3 linked regions of the Homo sapiens genome follow. The protein of the gene in region 3 purifies or fractionates together with the protein of the main gene of each other region. This does not show direct contact. Each region holds a gene or a part of one and is shown on either strand. Other genes may lie near its edges.

Region 1 (7,028 bases), on a different chromosome or scaffold from region 3:
GTTGGCTGAAGCTTGGCTGCCTGTGATTGGTTGAAGCTCAGCCGCTTGTGATTGACTGAGATCTAGCTATCCTATTACAAAAAATATATACTCCTAATGAGATTTTCATTTGTATACATACTAAGTTAGGTTGTAGTTCACTGCGAAGCAACTCAAAGTACAGCCTCAGACCAATGGCCTTTTGCTTATTTAATTTAACAGACACCTGAGTTATGCTTGCTGGGTTTTCTCTCCCAATAAAGGGACCCTTCATTCTGTCTGTGCCATCACGTGTTTAAGATTCACTCAAGACCTATCTCCTCTAGAAAGCCTTCCCCACAAATCCATCCCATGCTGTGAACTGAAAGCTGGATGCTCTCTCCCACTCTTGTCCTCCCAATTTCAAATCCACACAATTTGGCTCCATTATGAATAAACAAATAGCCCAGGGGACCATGGATATTTAGAATAAGGTTCTAAGAATGACATTCTTCCAATATAAGCCAATTTGTAAAGGCATTTTTAAAAGGAAGGTTTGCTCAGAAAACCCAAGGGCTGGGTGCTACGGATGGCCCATGAATGTCTGTGGCACGTGGGCTGCAGTTCTGCCCTTCTCTCTCCTGTCTAGCTGCATGGTTTCCCATCTCTGCTTGTTGATGTATATCTGATTCCTTCTGATTGTCTGTCCAGCCGCTTCCCTCGTTCCATTGTGGCAGAGCTGCTCGCGCATCACGTGATTTTTCAGATTTAGCTTGCACGTTGGAGTGGCCAATTCTCCCTGGAGAGGGATTCTGATTGGCTGAGCCAGGCGTCTGAATTGGTTCCCATAAATCAGTGTGACCAGGAGAGCAGGGTCACATATTATGTAATTCTGTACGGCTATGGGAGAGGGAACATGATACTAACAATAACCATCAATACAATCAGCACTTAGTACATTCTAAGTACTTTCAGACATTGTTGCATTTAATCCTCACAAAACGCTTGTGACATAGGTAATGCTATTATTCTAGTTTTACGAATCAGAAAACCACTGCACAGAGAGGTGAAACAACTTATTTGGCACTACACAGCTGGCCAGTGGCTGAGTCAGGAAGGGAAGCAGGCAGCATGGTTCTGGCATCTGTGTCTCTAATCATGACTCAACATTGCTTGTCTTAAACAGGCATTGCTAGGATACCACATCTTCATCTTTTTTATCCTTCTTGGTACCTATGCATTGGGCACTGAATGCCTGTTCAGTGATTTTTTTTTTCTTTTTCTTTTTTGAGACAGGGTCTTACTCTGTCACCCAGGCTGGAGGCCAATGGTGTGATCACAACTCACTGCAGCCTCAACTTCCCGGGCTCAAGCCATCCTCCCATCTCAGCCTCCCAAGTAGCTGGGACTGCAGGTGCATACCACCACGCCTAGCTAATTCTTTATTTTTATTTTTTGTAGAGATGGGATTGTGCCATGTTGCCCAGGCTGGTCTCGAACTCCTGGGCTCAAGCCATCTGCCTGCCTCAGCCTCCCGAAGTGTTGGGATTTCAGGCGTGAGTGACCATGCTCAGCCTAGTCAATGAATTGTTCGCTGAATGAATGGATGCCTGAGTGAATGAGAGAACACACAGAAGCATGCATAGTCTACAGGAAGTTTGGAATGGGCAATTGTGACGTGGGTCCTTTTTGGAGAGGAGTGAAGATGGCAGTCCCAGCTACTTGGGAGGCTGAGATGGGAGGATGGCTTGAGCCCGGGAAGTTGGGGCTGCAGTGAGTTGTGATCACACCATTGCCCTCCAGGCTGGGTGACAGAGTAAGACCCTGTCTCAAAAAAGAAAAAGAAGCTTCTTCCTGCTGTAGCTTGCTGGAGAGTTAACGTGCACATGTTCAAAGCGCTGTCTTTCCCCATCTCTCTTTTTTTTTTTTTTTGCTCAGACAAGAGTGAGAATGGTGAGGCATATCAGAGAAAGAAGGCGGCAGCCACTGGCCTTCCAGAGGGTCCTGCTGTCCCTGTGCCTTCTCGAGGGAATCTGGCACAGCCCGGCGGCAGCAGCTGGAGGAGGATCGCACTGCTCATCTTGGCCATCACTATACACAACGTTCCAGGTGAGGTCTTGCCCGTGAGCGTGACAGCCACTGCCTGAAGGTAAAGTCATTTGTCAGCACAGTTGTCTGGCTGGAAAAGGGGAAGGGGCAATTGTGACGTGGGTCCTTTTTGGAGAGGAGTGAAGGTGGCAGTACAAATCTTTCTTGGCTTTATTTTTTGATCGTCATAGATAGATCATCATATGTGAAAACTTCCCATTCCGGTTAGTTTAAACAACTTCTACTTCCTTTTTGTTTACATATTTGTTACCAAGTTATTTGGAGCATAAATTCATAACTGTTACATGATTGCTGTGGAGGGTATCTTTTATAAATACTGGGTATCTCTGGTTCTGCTTAATGCTATTTGAAAACATAGTTGACCCTTGAACAACACAGATCTGAACTACGTGAGTTCACTTACACTCAGATTTTCTTCCGCCTCTGCCCCCTGAGAGAGCAAGACCAACCCCTCCTCTTCCTCAGCTGACTCAATGTGAAGAGGATGAGGATGAGACCTTTATGATGACTCACTTCCACTTAATGAATAGTAAATATATGTTATCTTATGAATTCCTTAATAACATTTTTTCTTGAGATTGCTATATTGTAAGAATACAGTTTATAATACATATAACATACACTATATGTACTAATTGACTATGTTATTGGTAAGACTTCTGGTCAACAGCAGGTTATTCATAGTTAAGTTTTGGGGAAGCCAAAAACTCTCTGCAGATTTTCTACTGCGCAGGGAACCAGCATTCCTAACGTCTGCATTGTTCGAGGGTCAAGTCTATTGAGTTCAGTATAATTTGGCACTGATAATTGCCTTACCTGCCTTCTTTATGTGGGCATCTTTCTGAAATGTTCTTACCAATCCTTTCCTATTTAGCATTTTAGAGTAATTTCTTTTATGTCTTTTTTTTTTTTTAAGACAGAGTCTTGCTCTGTCCCCCAGGCTGGAGTGCAGTGGAGCGATCTTGGCTTACTGCAGCCTCTGCCTCCTGGGTTCAAGTGATTCTCCTGCCACAGCCTCTTGAGTAGCTGGGATTACAGGTGTGCACCACCATGCCTTGCTAATTTTTTGTATTTTTAGTAGAGATGGGGTTTCACCATGTTGGCCAGGCTGGTCTTGAACTCCTGACCTCAGGTCATCCACCTGCCTCGGCCCCTCAAAGTGTTGGGACTACAGGCGTGAGCTACCACGCTGGCCTGTTTTATGTCTTTAGATGTATTTTAATTGGAAAAAAGGACATATTAATGCCTTATTTCAAAAACAATGAATGTTTCTTTTAGAGCAACTAGAAAACATGATTAAGCATAGGAAATGATAAAGATATTTTTAAAAATAAATAAACTGAGGGAACCTGAGCAATTTGGGATGCATTTTGAAATTCCAACTCTCTCACTTCCTAAGGAGGTTATCTTGACGAATTGCTTGAACTCCCTGAACCTTGGTTTTCTCATCTAAGAAATGGGGATAATGCCACAAGTGGCTTACTTAGAGAATTAAATGAGATGCTAAATATACATACAGCTTTCAGTACAGTGCTTGGGACTTACGAGCGCATTGTTGGCATCGATGATACTCCTGCTGCCTTTTCAGCCATGATTTCCTCGATCTTGAGATCTTAAACATGCTGACCCACCTTTTGTTGTTTGGGAATTCGAGTTTGAGCAATAATCTTCCCCAGGGAGCATCCTTGGGTGATACATTTTCTGAGTCCTTGCAGAGTTCATGGTGCCAATCTGTTACTCTAATACAGGAGCAAGAACTTGGCTGGGCAAAGCTTTCTAGTCATGACATTTTTCTCTACAAAGCTTCTGCAGATGTTGATCCCTTGTCTTCTGGCTTTAGTATTGTGGAAGCAAAAAGCATGGCCAAAGTGAGTCTGTTCCTCTGTATAACTTGATATTGTTTTGCTTGCACAATGAAGACTTTTTTTTGTCGTCTTTAAAGTGTGAAAATTCTAATACATATTATATATTCTAGTATATATTAAATCTGCCGAAAGCACTATGTGTTTAATTACTTTTTAAGCTCAGATATTTCTCTAGATAAGAAGCACATTCCTCTGTTATTTCTATCCTAATCTTAGGAATGTCTATCATACGATCATAGGTAGGCCAGTTTTCCCAACATTTTCATCAGTTTATGTGTCTCCCTCATTCCCCTCTTGACCCTTTTCTTTGAGTTATGAATAAGCTTTTTTTAGTTGGTTTTCCAATTTTTTTTTTTTTTTTTTTTATGAGACAGAGTCTCGCTCTGTCGCCCAGGCTGGAGTGCAGTGGTGCAGTCTCAGCTCACTTCAATCTCCACTTCCCGGTTCAAGCAATTCTCCTGTCTCGGCCTCCCGAGTAGCTGGGATTAAAGATGTGTGCCATCATGCCCAGCTAATTTTTGTATTTTTCGAAGAGACGGGGTTTCACCATGTTGGCCAGGCTGGTCTTAAACTCCCGGCCTCAAGTGATTAGCCCACCTCAGCCTCTCAAAGTGCTGGGATTACGGGCATGAGCCACAGCATCTGACCCTGTTGGTTTTCTAGATCTTGGTATTCAGTATGTCTTGAGATAAAGATGGGGTCTTATATGGACCTCACTGCACAAAGATGGCCAAAGTGGGTTAGCCTTGGTGGAAGACCCTGCTCGTGCCCACCCCGTATCTTAAAGAGGTCATTGAAAGACCCCTTGGTCCCCTGCAGAGGACTACTTAGGAGCCCTGACAGCAACTTGTAGCCTGTTAAGTGCTAATAGTTAGAGAAGAGAGGTTACTTGTTTTTCATTCATAATAGTAGCTGTCTTTCTGCCATTTATGACCCCTTCTTTAGCCAATTGAGGAAGAGTAAAGATCTGCCCAGTGGGTTTAGTGTTAAATAAGGTAACTACACTGAGGTGTATTACGGCAACTATTTCTCTGAAGAACAAAAATGTGGTCTAAGGTCCAGACTTTATAGCAATGGAATGAGTATCCAACTTTCCTCTAATGGACCCTTTTATATACCACACCTGCCACTGTACTTGGGTGATTCATTATGCTCAGCTGGAATTATTTCCTGGCTCATCCCAATGGAAGGCCAGGATGGTTCAGAGTTTACTTTCTCAAATGTTTGTTGACTCCAGTGACAACTTGGAATAAAGCCAGAAACAGGAGGAAGATGTGTGGAATGACAGCAATATTTGATGATCTTAAATGAGCATAAATTAAAATCTTACTTCTTCCCTGACAGGAGACCCTATTCTGTGTCTTTGGAGTTTCCAAGTCTAAGTTCAGCCTTTGTCACTTCTATGGTGATGCAAAAGTATTTTTTCAAATAAGGATTGAGGCCAGGTGCAGTGGCTCATGCCTGTAATCCCAGCACTTTGGGAAGCCAAGGTGGGCGGATCACTTGAGGTCAGGAGTTTGAGACCAGCCTGGCCAACATGGCGAAACCCCGTCTCTACTAAAAATACAAAAATTAGCTGGGAGTGGTGGCACATGCCTGTAATCCCAGCTACTTGGGAGGCTGAGGCAGGAGAATCACTTGAACCCAGGAGGCAGAGGTTGCAGTGAGCCAAGATCATGCTACTGCACTGCAGCCTGGGCGACAAAGCAAGGCTCTGTCTCAAAAAAAAAAAAAAAAAAAAAAAAAAAAAGAGAGAGAGAGAGAGAGATTCATTGGTTTGAAAGATGGATTCTCTTATCTCCACACTCCATCCTGGGTGACACAGCGAGACTCCGTCTCAAAAATAATAGTAAAATAAAAAATAAATTGAAATGAGGATTGAGTGCCTTCCAGGAATCTCAATTGAGTTAGATTTCACCAGAAGCATGGTGGTAATAGTCACTGGTTTCAGTAAACTGGAGGACAGCTGGCTTGACTGGATGGAGAGGTTTGAAGGGACATTTCTTTCCCAGTCTTGTCTTTTATTTATTATATTTGAGTATTGTATTCCATGTACTTGGGTTATATCAGTACTAAAACAGACCAAGATCTCTGGCCTTCTATAACCAATATTATAGCAAGGTGAGATAGTCGATGAACATCATCATAATAAATGAATTTTATATTGTGTTAGAAGGTGGTTAGTGATTTAAAAAAAGAAAAAGTTCAACAGGGCAGAGGAGACGGTAGAGTGTTAGAGGAAGAAATTGCCATTTTAAATAGAGTAGGTAGGGAGGGGCTCCTTGAGATGTCCTTGAATTTGAGTCAGTCATGCAGATCTCTGGGAAACAGTGAGTGTTTTAGGCAGAGGGAACAGCCAGTGCAAAGGCCCTGAGGCAGGAGCATGTCTGGCCCCCACAAGGAGTAGCCAAGAGTCCACTGTGGCCACAGCAGGGTGAGCAGCAGGGAGAGAAGTACAAGGTGAGGGCAGGGATGTCAGCCCCTCCTTTAGATGGAACTTGGAGGCATAAGAATGTTTGTTTTTGCTCTGTGTGTGATGAGCCATTGCAGAGTTTTGAAGAGGGTGTGTATGACTTGACTTGAGCTTTGAAAGTTTGTTTCTCTTTAGATACTGAATTGAGATGGGACTTAGGAGAGGTAAGGATGGAAGCAGGGAGGCCTATGTAGAGGCCACTGCAGAATCCAGATCAAAGATGATAGTGGTGCAGACCAAGGTGGTCGTGCTGGATGTGGTGAGAAGGGATCCCTTCCTGGGTCCCGATTGAAGGTGGAGCCAATGGGATTTGCCGATGGATTGGATGTGGGATATGAGAGAAAGCGAGGAGCCAGGAGGGACCCGGAGGTTTCAGGGCTGCCCAGCTGCAGGGATGGAATTGCCATCAACTGAGACGAGGAAGGCTGCAGCTCCAGGGGCTTTAGGGGGACTATCAGGAATTTGTTTTTTGATTGTGAGGTTTGATTGCCATTAGACATTCAAATGGAGATACTGACTAGACAGCTGGATACATGAGTTTGGAGTTGGCTTGCAAAGTCTAGCTAGAGTTATAGATTTCTGAATCATTGGCCCATGAATGTTTTTTGTTTTTTTGTTTTTTG
Region 2 (6,952 bases), on a different chromosome or scaffold from region 3:
GCAGTCTCAACTTCTTGGGCTCAAGCTACCCTCCCACCTCAACCTCCTGAGTAGCTGGGACTACAGGTGCTCCCCACCACACCTGGCTAATTTTAAAAAGAACATTTGTAGAGACAGGGTCTTACTATGTTGCCCAGGTTGGTCTTGAACTCCTGGGCTCAAGTGATCCTCCCACCTTAGCCTCCCAAAATGCTGAGATTACAGGCATGAGAACACCGTACCTGGCCTGTACAGTACTTTCAATAACCTTTGAGTAACTAGGGAAGGCATGAATTGACTTGTGTTCAGGATCAAAGTGAGAGATATTGGGACAAAAAAAAAGAAAGGAAAAAAAACCTGCTTTCTGGTTATAAAATGTAATTCTGTTTGATTAGCACACTGATGACATTGGAGAGTGTGTAATAACTAAGGATTATGATTAATCCAATTCTGTGCACCTGAGATCCAAAGAGAAAAGAAAAAAAACAAAACTCATGGAGCCTAGCTGTGAGTATCAGACTCAAATAAAAGTTGAGAAGACATTGGGAGGTTATCTCAGTAATGCCAACAACTTACAAATGAATTTTAGACTGGCCTCTTTCTTTTTTTTTTTTTTTTTTGAGACAGGATCTCACTCTGTCACCCAGGCTGGAGTGCACCGGTGCGATTTCAGCTCACTGCAACATCCACCTCCCAGGCTCAAGCCATCTTCCCAGCTGGGAATACAGGTGTGCGCAACCATGCCTGGCTAATTTTCATATTTTTTGTAGAGACCAGGTTTCTCCATGTTTTCCAGGCTGGTCTTGAACTCCTGACCTCAAGTGATCAGCCCACCTCAGCCTCCCAAAGTGCTAGGATTATAGGCATGAGCCATCGCGCCCAGTCCTGGCCTCTTCTTTTTAAAACTCATTTTTATTTTATTAAGAATAAAACAAATAATATACCATGAGTATATGTCAAAATTTAACATAAATTATATATCATAAACCAGCAAGTATTGAATTGTGGACTCACATCAATATGATGGTTGGTAAACATAACCTATATGTGTGTATATGATAAAAGAAATGAGTTGGGAGGCCGAGGCGGTGGATCACGAGGTCAGGAGATCGAGACCATCCTGGCCAGCATGGTGAAACCCCGTCTCTACTAAAAATACAAAGAATATTAGCCAGGCGTGGTGGTGGGCACTTGTAGTCCCAGCTACTCGGGAGGCTGAGGCAGGAGAATGGTGTGAACCCGGGAGGCGGAGCTTGCGGTGAGCCGAGATCGTGCCACTGCACTCCAGCCTGGGCGACAGAGCGAGACTCCATCTCAAAAGATAAATAAATACATTAATTAATTAAAATAAAATAAATAAAAGAAATGAGCTGGGTATGGTTGCTCATGCCTGTAATCTTAACACTTTTGGAGGCTGAGGTGGGAGGATCACTTGAGATCAGGAGTTGGAGACCAGCCTGAGCAACACAGGGAGACCTTCTGTCTCCAAAAAGGTAACTCTCTGCAAGCCTGACTGCTGAAACTGCCTCTTGTAAACGGAGACCAGTTTTATCTAACAACTGCTGAAACAACCTACTGTGACTCTAAGACTAATTTTACCTGCTGCCATCTCTCACCAATCCTAGCTTGCAAGCTCCCCCAAACCTTACTAAAACCAATAAAATTTCTTTCAAAACAACGTGTAACATTTCTCCTTTTTATAAAAGCCCCAACCTTCTCTTTGTACTTCAGATATATTGAAGACGCCCACCTGTCTCATCTGTGTGTATGCCCTGAATTGTAATTCTTACTTTCTAAATCAATTGCTTTAAATTTAGAGATTCATCTCTATGTTTTGTTTGACTTTGACGTAAGTATCACAGTAATTCTAGGCAAACATTGGACACCTTCATTATGTTTTCTAATATAGTTATGACTGAGTATTTAAAATATTCATGTGGACATTTTATTTTAAATAATTTCGGCCGGGCGCGGTGGCCCGCGCCTGTAATCCCAGCACTTTGGTAGGCCGAGGCGGGCGGATCACGAGGTCAGGAGATCGAGACCATCCTGGCTAACACGGTGAAACCCCGTCCCTACTAAAAATACAAAAAAAAAATTAGCCGGGCGAGGTGGCGGGAGCCTGTAGTCCCAGCTACTCTGAAGGCTGAGGCAGGAGAATGACGGGAACCCCAAGGGGCGGAGCCTGCAGTGAGCCGAGATCGCGCCACTGCACTCCAGCCTGGGCGACAGCGAGACTCCGTCTCAAAATAAATAAAATAAATAAATAAATAAATAATTTCATGTCTCCATTCCTGTTTGGTCATTATATTGATATTTTTGAAATTTCATGTGGAAGTAGCTTATATCATCTATAAATTTAATTCCATTAAATCAAAGTGGGTACTTGTAAATCAATTCCATCATAGGTAATTTTTTTAGTTTAATGTTTACGATTCTTATGGAGAAAGAAGTGTTTTTCATTTACCTTTGCATGGGTGCTTAAAATACACATTTCTATTTCAAGATGACACTGAAAAATTCTTCTAATATAACAGCAGCAAAAATGTAATTCTGCAATTACAAAAGTGCTAAACTGAAATCCATAATTAAGGTTTTCTCATGTTTACAATTGTGGTTCTTTAATCAATACTAATACTATGCAGGTCTGTTGTAAGGTTTCTAGATTCGGTTTAAACACACGCACACAATACTGTCAGTTGTAGGAGGCTTTACAAGTTATATTTCATGCACTTTTTTTTAAAGAGTTCTAAAAGAGCCAACCAGTCCACAAGACAGACAGAAAAAAAGTTAAATTAACTGGAGTAAATTGGACTCTTAACATTCGAAACATGCAAGATTCTGCAGCAAACTGGGAGTACTTCAGGATTGGCCTGCTATCTTCCTTAGTATTAATTTCATCTTAACAGTTTAAGAAGTTGGACATTTTAACACCATCAAGCGCATTTAGGTGACGTGTTTCTTGTGTGTTAACTTGGCTCCCCGGAATGATCTAGTTAGTGAACTAGTCACTAATAATTTGGTCACCAGGCAAATCAAGCCTACACGAAAGGAAGCGACTATTCAAAATACCGTAGTATCATCTGAACCTACCCAAATAATTTATGTTCAACATAAACATGTAACTTCAATAATGAGATGACTCATTAATGAGTCAAGCTCCTCCAACAAGACAAAGACAACATCTCTTCTTCTAAGGTTTAAGTTTTGCATAGAAATCCGGATACATGGAATAGCCCATACCAACAGTCATTGCTCCTACAACAAAGCTGGACTGCCACACGCATGTGGATCAGGTGACGTGATATTTTAGTATTTCCCCTGCTTTTCAATTTGTATAATCCGTATGCAGCAACTACTGCAAAACCTGCCATTCCAATGGGGACAAATGGTGCCTCTTTAGTTTTTCGAATCACTTTGGATCCCTGGAATCCCTCACAAGCCATCCAGCTTCCCCTACGGATATTTTTAGGAATGGCAACAGTGGCCAGAGATCAGAGGATTATATTATTAGGGTTATACAACTTTTATATAAAAAAAGTGGCTTCTGACCAGGCGCGGTGGCTCACGTTTGTAATCCCAACACTTTGGGAGGCCGAGGCAGAAGGATTGCTTGAGCCAGAAGTTCGAGACCAGCCTGGGCAACATAGATCAGAAGGCGAATAGAATAAGTCCGCTAGCTTTGAGATTCACATCTGTTCCTGAGGCTTCCTCACTGCTCCCCACCCTTCCTTCTTCAATCAGTCTAAGAGCTCCTGGAGAAATGGAACACCTGATTCAGTGAGGGTGACAAATAATTATGAGTATGTTCGTGCCAGGGTCCTCGATAGGATGGGGTGGGGGAGGTCAAGCCGCCTTGGCAGCTGGCCAGGCTCCGAACAGCAGATGGCGCTGTAGGGGGAGTCCCACCGGGTACGCCGGGCGCTCTGGCACTAGGGCGCCGGTCGTCTCCTCCGCAGCTTCCGGCACGGCCTTCAAGCGCGGGACGCGACAAAGTCATGGACCGCAACCCCTCGCCGCCGCCGCCGGGTCGCGACAAGGAGGAGGAGGAGGAGGTGGCCGGTGGAGACTGCATAGGGAGCACGGTCTACAGCAAACACTGGCTCTTCGGCGTCCTCAGCGGACTCATCCAGGTGTGGAAACTCGCGCCACGCGTGGGGTGTCCCTACATCCCCCAGGCACCGGGGCTCCGCCTCTGGCGAATCCTCCTGCCCCGGGAGCCGCCATCCCCACAAAGACCCCTCCCCAGGCGTGCGCTGCGGGACCTTGCTCCTTGCGTTTCGCCGGCCGCTGCGGACCCCAAAACTATCTGGGCCCCCTCGGGGTCTCTCGACACAAAGGGAAGTATAATGGTAGGGATGCTGAAATACTTGCCGTTCTATTTTGCTTTCCCAAGTTCTCCAAAAATACATGATCGTGTAACTGCATTCCTCGGGTTTTGCTCCCCATCCCCACTGTCATTTCTGAAGCCCAGGTCCTTAATTTATGTATTTCATGGACTATCGTTGTAATAGAATAAATGGTGACTTTAGGGTTATACAACTTTTATATTAAAAACGTGGCTTCTGACCAGGCGCGGTGGCTCACCTCTGTAATCCCAACACTTTGGGAGGCCGAGGCGGAAGGATCGCTTGAGCCAGGAGTTTGAGACCAGCCTGGGCAACATAGACCTGGTTTCTACAAACTTAAAAAAAAAAAAAAAAAAAAGCCGGTCGTGACGGTGCACGCCTGTAGTCCCAGCGACTCAGGAGGCTGAGGCTGGAGGATCGCTTGAGCCTGAAGTTGGAGGCTGCAGTGAGCTATGATCCAGCTTCTGCACTCCAGGCTGGGGGACGGAGTAAGACCCTGTCTCAAAAAAACAAAAAACGCAGCTTCCTTACCCACTAGCTGCAGGTCACCTAACGGCTCAGAACCTCTATTTGTCCCTTAATTTCTATAAAATGGGATTATAATATTTATATTATATATAAGGTTATTGTGTAGGTTAAGTGAGATTATAATGGCAACAGAGTGCTTAGCATGGTGTTTGGCTTATAGGAGGCTGTCAGTAAATGTGTTTTCTTCCCCCCATGTTTCCCTAATTGGTTCCTCTCCTCCTATTGTCTATCCTCTCCAGTCAATTTTCTACACAGCTGCCAGAATAATCTTCTTTAAAGACAGGGCTATTCATGATACTGCTCTTAGTTCTTTTTGCCTGGGAGAAAAATGCATGTTTCTTGAAGTTTGGAATCCAGGGCTGTTTGTACATTTTCCAGCCTCATCTTCTCATGATACACTGTGTTCCATCAACTCTGAACTGTTCACCATCCCCAAACATGCTAGGCCCTTTCTTAACTCTGAACTCTTGTGCTTTCCTCTGAATACTCACTTCTCTCCTTCTTCACATGACAAACTACTATTCTTCCTTTAAAATTTAGCTTAAATATCAGCACCTAAGGGAAGGTTCCCCATCTTCTCCTAGGAATAGGTCATTGGTCCATCGTTTTTGCTACCAGAACTCTTTGTCCACAATTCAGTTGAATCACTTTGCCTTTTCTAATATGACTATCCCTTTACATGTCTTTCCCCACTAGATCCTAAAAGTTAAAAAAAAAAAAAAGCTTAAATGTAAGGGATTATATCTTACTTGTCTTTGTATATCTACCCCAGTGCCTAGCAACAGTATTTACTTTGTGAATGTTGAAAGAGTAGATCTACCCAAGGTACTACATTTTTAAAAGAAGATTTTTGCAAGAGAAGATACTTTGCTGATAGCCTCTTTGTGACTTCTAAACGATTATGGGTTAATATTAAAGTAAGTGCTCACTTAACATCAGTAGGTTCTTGGAAATTGTGACTGTAAGCAAAATTACTGATAATGAAACCAATTTTACCATAGCTAATTGATATAAACAAGAGTTAAGTCCCTGTGGCATATTTCTGGACACAAGAACATCACCAAACTTCTAAATGAGGACCTAAAACACTTCTAATATTAAACATTGAGATAAATGTGAGCTATAATACGTTTAGGAAAGGTTAATAAAAACAAGATAATTATTCACCCAGTTTTGGTGAGTTAGTGAGTGATGGTGGTTGTAGTGATTATCACTACAACCTTTATTCTTTGATTGTGTTAAATCAAGGAATAAATGTTTACAAAGCAAAAATGATCACCTCTTACTACTGTACAGTCCAAAAACAATAACAAATAAGGCAGGCTTACTGAGCACTTTCCTACCACATAATTATTGTCACGCATCTCTATGGTTATTGTCTTCTTTACAGATTTTTGTTTTATAATAATTTGTATTCATCCATTTCCCAACCCACTTGCTCTGGTTCAGGGTTGAGGGTGGCTGGAGCCTGTACCAGCAGTTCAAGGTGCAAGGCAGAAACCAGCCCTGGACAGGATGCCATCCCATCACAGGTACACACACACCCACACTCACTCAGATTGGGACCATTTAGATACCCGTTGTGCTAATGTGCAAATTTGGGGGATGTAGGAGGAAACTAAAGTACCTGGAACAGACTCATGCACTCTTGGGGAGAACATGCAAACTCCACACAGACAGTGGCCCTGGCCAGGAATCAAATTTTTTTCTCATCAGCGTTACGAGGAAATGTTATTTGATCACCTGCTGTATTTGGGTACCTGGTTAGTATTGTAGACAACTTTTATTCATGTTTTCTTTCTTTGTGTTTCTGAAGATTGTTAGCCCTGAAAACACCAAATCTAGCTCAGATGATGAGGAGCAGCTGACGGAGCTTGATGAAGAAATGGAGAATGAAATTTGCAGAGTATGGGATATGTCAATGGATGAGGTATGAGGCTGGAAACAAAACTCTGAAGACTGTTGGGTGAGGAGATGGTGAATGAATGTTTTAAAAACGGTTCAGTCCTTCACTCTGGGGAAAGGCTTTATCTCCTGTCTGTAATCACACCCATATATGATATAGGGAATGAGATCCCAGGGGCTATAAATGCTAA
Region 3 (7,028 bases):
CCAGCATGTAGAGAGGGGTGACTTCACCTCCAAAATGGGGTTTAGCTCCTAGATCTTCCCACCCATCATAGACATCAATATTGACCACGACCATGAGATGAAGTACACAGTGCACCTGACACCTCTTGTCCCACCCTCTCTCTCTGGTGCACAAAACATCATCTCTCCTAGGACTCAGGTTCCTCTCCACCCTGGGTCTTTCTGAAATGAACCTCAGACATAGCCCCTGAAGGACTGTGAAGCTCTGAGCCTCTTGGATGAGAGAGAGAGAAAGCACTGGAATGCTGATAGGCCTTGTCTCTTCTTTCTTCCCACTGGCCCCATCACTTAGGGTCAAAGGTGGTCCTTTTGGCCTTAAAAAGGGCCTGGAAGCAGGGTGGGGCAGGGAGGTGGTTCTCAGACCTTCTTAGACCCAGACAGTTCTCCTGGACCTGCCTGGCTGTGCCTTCTAGGTCCCAACACTCAGAGTCAGGGGCGTGTCTCTGAGCATCATTGTTAACAGTTTGATAACCACTACTGAGGGAACTGTTCCTGCTCTCACTGGGCTCACTGTCCACTGAGGTGCCAGATGCCATTATTAATTGGAATAGGGCAGTGGAGAGAGCACTGGTCTTTGGACAGAGGCCAGGGCTAAGGGTTGAGGTATGGACAGTAGAAAAAAATGCCCTAAAGAGATTTTTAGGGAAGTGTGACTATTCTATATGATACTCTCATGGTGGATTCATGTCATTATACATTTTTAAAAAGCCTGTAAAATGTACAACACCAAGAGTGAACTTTAATGTAAACTATGGGCTTCAGGTGACAATGATATGTCAATGTAGTTTTATTGACTGTAACAAATGTACCACTCTGATGGGGGATGCTGATGGCCGGGGAAACTATGTGTAAGGGTAGAGGGCATACGGGAAGTCTTAGTATCTTCTGCTCAATTTCTTCATGAAAAATAAGGTTCATTTATAAATGCTCCCAAGATGATCAGCGACTAGAAGATTCCACTCAATTTTGCTGTGAAACAAAAACTACTCTGAAAAATAAAACCTATTAAAAAAAAATGCCCCCATTGGAGCAAAATGGCTCACCGGAGGTGCCTGGAGCTCATCCTCCCCCGTGTCACCAGACAAGAAAGGACCAAGGCAATGAATAAACCACAGCAAAGATTTGAGTGGAGTGTCGAAGGGAGAGTAGTGTAGTGCAGCAAGGGAGTGGAGAGTTACCTGTGGTAATTGGAAACCCAGGAGGGCAGCATGGAGGCACCCGGGCTTTGCAGCTCCATCTCCCCAGCCCAGATTGGTTTGTCCCAGAGACAGGAAGGATTTCCCCTTGTAGGGAAATGATAAGCAGAGGAATCCAACCAACCTCCAGTGCCACTGCAGATACCTACATTCCTTACTACAGGTTAATCTTACAGTCCTCACAAGCTCTGAGCACAGTTGGAAGAGCTGCCAGGAATTCACACAGCTGCATGGAGCATTTGGTGTGCACTCCCAACTCCCTAACCAGCCCCTGCGGGCAAGCTGCTACAACACAGAACCATCTTGAGACCACAGCCATCTCTGGAGTGCACCCTCCTCTGGGGGCCAGTGGCATGCACCTCTTTATCATTGTGCATCTTCATTCCACTAAACCTGCAGTAGTGGCTGAATACCACAATTAGAGCTGCATGGAGCCTGGGCCCAGGATTGGCTGGGACTCTGGCCCTGAACAGCAGAGAAACCAACCCCTGCTGCCCGTACTTCCAGCTGGAGGAAAGGTCTTATAGTCCCACTCAGGGCGAACACACAATTGAGTTGGCCAAACTACTGTGCATGCTCACCTGAATGGGAGAGACCTCTGAGCCAACAAAGAGTTGATACATCCCCAGGCTGGGGTAGTGGTTATGTGCTCACACACAGGCTCTGAGAAACAGCCTTACGGTGCCCAGACGCCTTCTGTGGACATGACTCTGGCCTGCCCAAAGGCCACTCTCCCACAATTAGGGCCTGAGAAACAGCCTTGTGAGCCAACCCTTTTAGACATGACCCCAGGCAGAATGTGCTTGCATTCCAGGCCTGAGAAACAGCCCCATGGGCTACCACTGGCTGGTACACCCCCTAGGCCAGCTGAGCAGTCTTACACTCACATCCCAAACCCTAGATAAAGCTCTGAGTGCTACTCCTGGCAAAAACACACCTAGGCCAGCCAAGAGTCATTCAGCTTCATCTCAGCCCTGCAAAACAGCCATGTTGGCACCTCCAGCAGATATGCCCCCAGGTCAGCCAAGTAGTTGGGCACCTGTGTCCCATTGTTTTAATTCATGACTTGAAAGAGAAATTTAACAGAGAGATAGATATTATATAAAAGAACAAAGCAGAACTCCTACAGCTGAGAACTCAATAAATGAAATAAAAAACCGCAATCGAGAGCTTCAACAACAGGCTAGGTCAAGAAGAAAAAATAATTTCTGAACTTGAAGACAGATCTTCTGAAATAACACAGGCAGGTAAAAATAAGAGAATAAAATAGAACGAAGGAAACCTACAGGACTCATGGGACACAATCAAGCAAATATTCACATTATGGTATTTCCAGGAGGAGAAGAGAATGGAAAAGGTGTAGAAAACATATTTAATCCAGTAATAGGTGAAAACTTCCCAAGCCTTGGGAACTAGAAGGACATCCAGGTCCAGGAAGCTCAAAGTACTCTCAAAATATTCAACCCAAGCAAGTCCTCTCCAAAGCTCATTATGCCAAATTGTCAAAAGTCAAGTAAAGAATTGTAAAAACAGCAAGGTAAAAGTATCTAGTCACATATAGGATTATCCTTATTAGACTAACAGTGAGTTTCTCAGCAGTAACATTATATAGGCCAGGATAGAATGGGATGACATACTCAAAGTACTGAAAGATAAAAAACTTAACAGTCAAAAATACTATACCCAGAAAAGCTATCTTTCAGAAAAGAAGGAGAAATAAAATATTTCATAGATAAGCAAAAACTAAGGGAATTCTAATCACTCTTAGACTGGCCTTACAAGAAATGCTCAAGGGGCCAGGCACAGTGTGGCTCATGCCTATAATCCCAGCACATTGGGAGGTGAAGGCAGGCAGGTGGACCACTTGAGCTCTTTAATTTGAGACCAGCTTAGGCAAATGGCAACACCCTACCTCTACAAGAAACACAAAAATTAGCTGGGCGTGGTGGCACATGCCTGTAGTCCCAGCTACTTGGGAGGTTAAGGCAGGAAGATTGCTTAAGCCCAGGAGGTCGAGACTATAGTGAGCCGTGATCATGCCACTGCACTCCTGCCTGGGCGACAGAGTGAGACACTTTCTCAAAAAAAAAATAATAAAAATAAATAAGAGAAGAAAAAGAAAAGAAATGCTCAAGGGAGTCTTACATCTGGAAGTGAAAAGGCAAAAACACGTGAACTTAAAACTCACTGACAGCCCATACACAAAGAAGAAAGAGAAAGGAATCAAATCTTATCACTACAAAAAAAAAAAAAACATCAGCCAACCACAAAAAGAAACAATAAGAGGGGAAGTAAGGAACCAGGAATATATAAAACAATCAGAAAACAATCAATGAAATGAAAATAACCTATTAATAATAATGTGTATGTAAATGGATTAAATTGTCCCATTTAAAATATATGGACTGCCTGAATGAATGAAAAGAAAATCTAGACTCAGCTTGTTGGGGTGATCAGATCCAACACTAGGCCGTGGGGGCCACGAAGTCCAGCGGAGTCAAAGGAATGAGACAAGACAAGTTAATAGTACATAAAGTGAGTCCAGGGGGCCGACGCTAGTATGGAGGCTGTGAAGGCCCCGAGCTCTGGGAGCCCACACTATTTATTGGTAATCAAACAAAGAAGCAGGTGGTGAGGACGTGCAGAAGTGGGGATAGACAAGTGAGAACGTGAGGACTTTGGGGTAGAAAGGTAGCGGTGCATCAAGCATAGCTGTGACGGTTTAGCATATGCTCTGCTACTTGAAATAATGGAGAACAAGTTCTTTTCACTCAAGATACAATCAATTTATGATCCTGGGAGAGCAAGGAGCAAGGGGCCAGCAAGTCTGGACACATTCCAGAGGCTATGAGGGGTTTTATGCCCAGAGCCCTGGATTCTTTCCAAGCCACGAGGGGTTTTATGCCCTGGGCTTAGATTGCAGTGTGGCAGGGCAGCCTTCCACCCTTAGGCACAGAGCTTGGTGTTCCATAGGCCACGAGGGGTTTGAGACCCTGGACCCAGGACATGTTCCAAGACTCTTTTACATTATGTCAGACAAGCAAGCCCTGCCTCAGCCCTTCTACCAACACAGCTATATACTGCTTACAAGAAACTTATCTCACCTAGAAGACACACATAGACTGAAAAGGAAGAGATGGAAAAAGATATTCTACCCAAGTGGAAATGAAAGGAAGCAGGAATAGCTATACTTATCTCAGACAAAACGGACTACAAGTCAAAAGCTGTAAAGAGACAAAGAAGGACATTATATTATTATAAAGGGGTCAGTTCAGCACTATAATATAACAACTGTAAATACATATGCACACAACACCAGAGCACCCAGATATGTAAAGCAAATATTATTAGATATAAAGGGAGAGATAGACTCCAATACAATAATAGTTGAGGACTTCAACGCCCCACTCTCAGCATTGAACAAATCATCTAGACAAGATTAACAAATAAACGTTGGATTTAAACTGCACCATATACCAAATGAACCTAAGATATTTACAGAACATTTCAACCGACAGCTGCAGAATACACATGGTTTCATCAGCATGTGCAACATTCCCAAGGATCGACCATATGTTAGAACACAAAACAAGTGCCAAAAATTTTTAAAAACCAAAATGTATCAAGTATCTTATTTGACTACAATTGAATAAAACTAAAAATCAATACCAAGGGAAACATGCAAACTATACAAATACACAGAAATGAAACAAAATGATTCTAAATGACCAATAGTGAAGGAAGAAATTAAGAATGATATTTAAAAATTTCTCAAAATAAATAAAAATAGAAATAAAATATACCAAAACCTATGGGACACAGCAAAAACAGTTTTAAGAGACAACTTGAGAGAAATAAATGCCTACATCAAACAATTAGACAAATTTCAAGTAAACCATTTAACTGTGCATTTCAAGAAACTAGAAAGCAAGAACAAACCAAATCCAAAATCAGCACAATGAAAGAAATCATAAAGATCAGAGCAGAAATAAATGAAATTAAAAAAAAATCAATGAACAAGTTCGCTTTTTGGAAAAATAAATAAAATTGACAATCATTAGCTAAACTAAGAAAGAGACAGAAGACATAAAAATTAATAAAATCATAAATAAAAAAGAAGATGTCACAATGGTTACCACAGAAATACACAGGATCTTAGACACTACTATGAACAATATGCCAACAAATTTGAAAGTCTAGAAGAAATGGATAAGTTCCTGGACACATATAATCTACCGAGATTGAATCAAGAAGGTATAGAAAACTTCAGCAGACAAACAACAAGTAATGAGATTGAATGAATAATAAAAGGCCCCCCAACAAAGAAAATTCCAGGGCTGGATGGCTTCAGTGCTGAACTTTACTGAACCTTTAAAGAAAAAAAAATTATGCCAACTCTTCTCAAACTATTCCAAAAAATTGAAGTGGAGGCAACTCTTCCTAACTCATTCTACAAGGCCAGCATAACCATGACACCAAAATCAGAAAGGAGACAATAAAAAAAGAAAACTAGAGGCCAATATCCCTGATGAACATAGATGCAAAAATATTCAACAAAATAGTAGCAAATCAAATCCAACAATACATCAAAAAGATAACATACCATGATAAAGTGGGATTAATCCCAGAAAGGCAAGAATGATTCAACATATGCAAATCAATAAATGTTATACATATGTCAACAGAATGAAGGACATAAACCGTATGATCACCTAAATAGTTGCAGAATAAAAAGCATGTGTTAAAATTCAATATTGTTTCATGATAGAAACTCTCAATAAATTAGGTATAGAAGGAAAGTACCTCAACACAAAAAAGGCCATATATGACAAACCCATGGCTAACATCATACTGAATGGAGAAAAGCTGAAATCTTTTCCTCTAGGAACTGGATGTCCACTGTTATGACTCTTATTTTACATAGTACTGAAAGTCCTAGCCAGAGCAATTAGGCAAGAGAAAGAAATAAAAACCATCCAAACTGGAAAGGCGGAAGTCAAATTGTCTCTGCAAATAACATACAAAAACCTAAAGACTTGGCCAGGCGTGGTGGCTCATGCCTGTAATTCCAGCACTTTAGGAGGCCAAAGTGGGCAGATTGCTTGAGGCCAGGAGATCAAGACCAGCTTGGCCAACATGGTGAAATTCCATCTCAAAAACAAAACAAAACAAAACAAAACAAAACAAAAACCTAAAGACTCTAACAATAAAACTCTCAGAACTGATAAATGAATTTAGTAAATTTGCAGGATGCAAAATCAATATACAAAAATCAGTAGCATTTCTACACACAATGAATTAGCTGAAAATAAATCAGGAAGGCAATCACATTTACAATAGCTATAAGAGAATGAAGTATACCTAGGAATAAATTTAACCAAGGAGGTGACAAGCCTTAATAAGAAAAACTACAAAACACTGAGGAAATAAACTGAAGAGGATACAAACAAATGGAAAGACATTCCTTACTCATCAGATGAATTAATATTGCTAAAATGATTATACTACCCAAAGAAATCTACAGATTCAAACCTGGCTCTATCAAAATATCAATGTAATTCTTCACAGAATTAGAGGAAACAATCTTAAAATTCATATGGAACTAAAAATAGCCTGAATGGTCAAAGCAATCCCAAGCAAAAAAGAACAAAGCTGGAGGTATCACACTACAAGATTTCAAAATTTCAAAACTAGAAAATTTCAAAATTTCAAAAATTTAAAGATTTCAAAACTACAAAGCTGTAGTAACCAAAACAGCATGATATTGGCATAAAAGCAGATACATACACCAAT

What was found.
Region 1: the proteins of CD33 (region 3) and SLC39A11 purify together in Homo sapiens (affinity purification with mass spectrometry; 4 studies listed by BioGRID and IntAct, with this or other methods). This does not show direct contact.
Region 2: the proteins of CD33 (region 3) and SAAL1 purify together in Homo sapiens (affinity purification with mass spectrometry; 2 studies listed by BioGRID and IntAct, with this or other methods). This does not show direct contact.

Annotation. Positions count from the first base shown.
Region 1 is NC_000017.11:72,844,673-72,851,700, reverse strand, and holds part of SLC39A11 (zinc transporter ZIP11), read left to right. Parts: intron 1-1,896; coding exon 1,897-2,067; intron 2,068-7,028. UniProt on the Homo sapiens protein: Zinc importer that regulates cytosolic zinc concentrations either via zinc influx from the extracellular compartment or efflux from intracellular organelles such as Golgi apparatus. May transport copper ions as well.
Region 2 is NC_000011.10:18,103,067-18,110,018, reverse strand, and holds the start of SAAL1 (protein SAAL1), read left to right. Parts: upstream 1-3,936; 5' UTR 3,937-3,977; coding exon 3,978-4,112; intron 4,113-6,672; coding exon 6,673-6,786; intron 6,787-6,952. UniProt on the Homo sapiens protein: Plays a role in promoting the proliferation of synovial fibroblasts in response to pro-inflammatory stimuli.
Region 3 is NC_000019.10:51,228,065-51,235,092, reverse strand, and holds part of CD33 (myeloid cell surface antigen CD33 isoform 1 precursor), read right to left. Parts: intron 1-7,028. UniProt on the Homo sapiens protein: Sialic-acid-binding immunoglobulin-like lectin (Siglec) that plays a role in mediating cell-cell interactions and in maintaining immune cells in a resting state.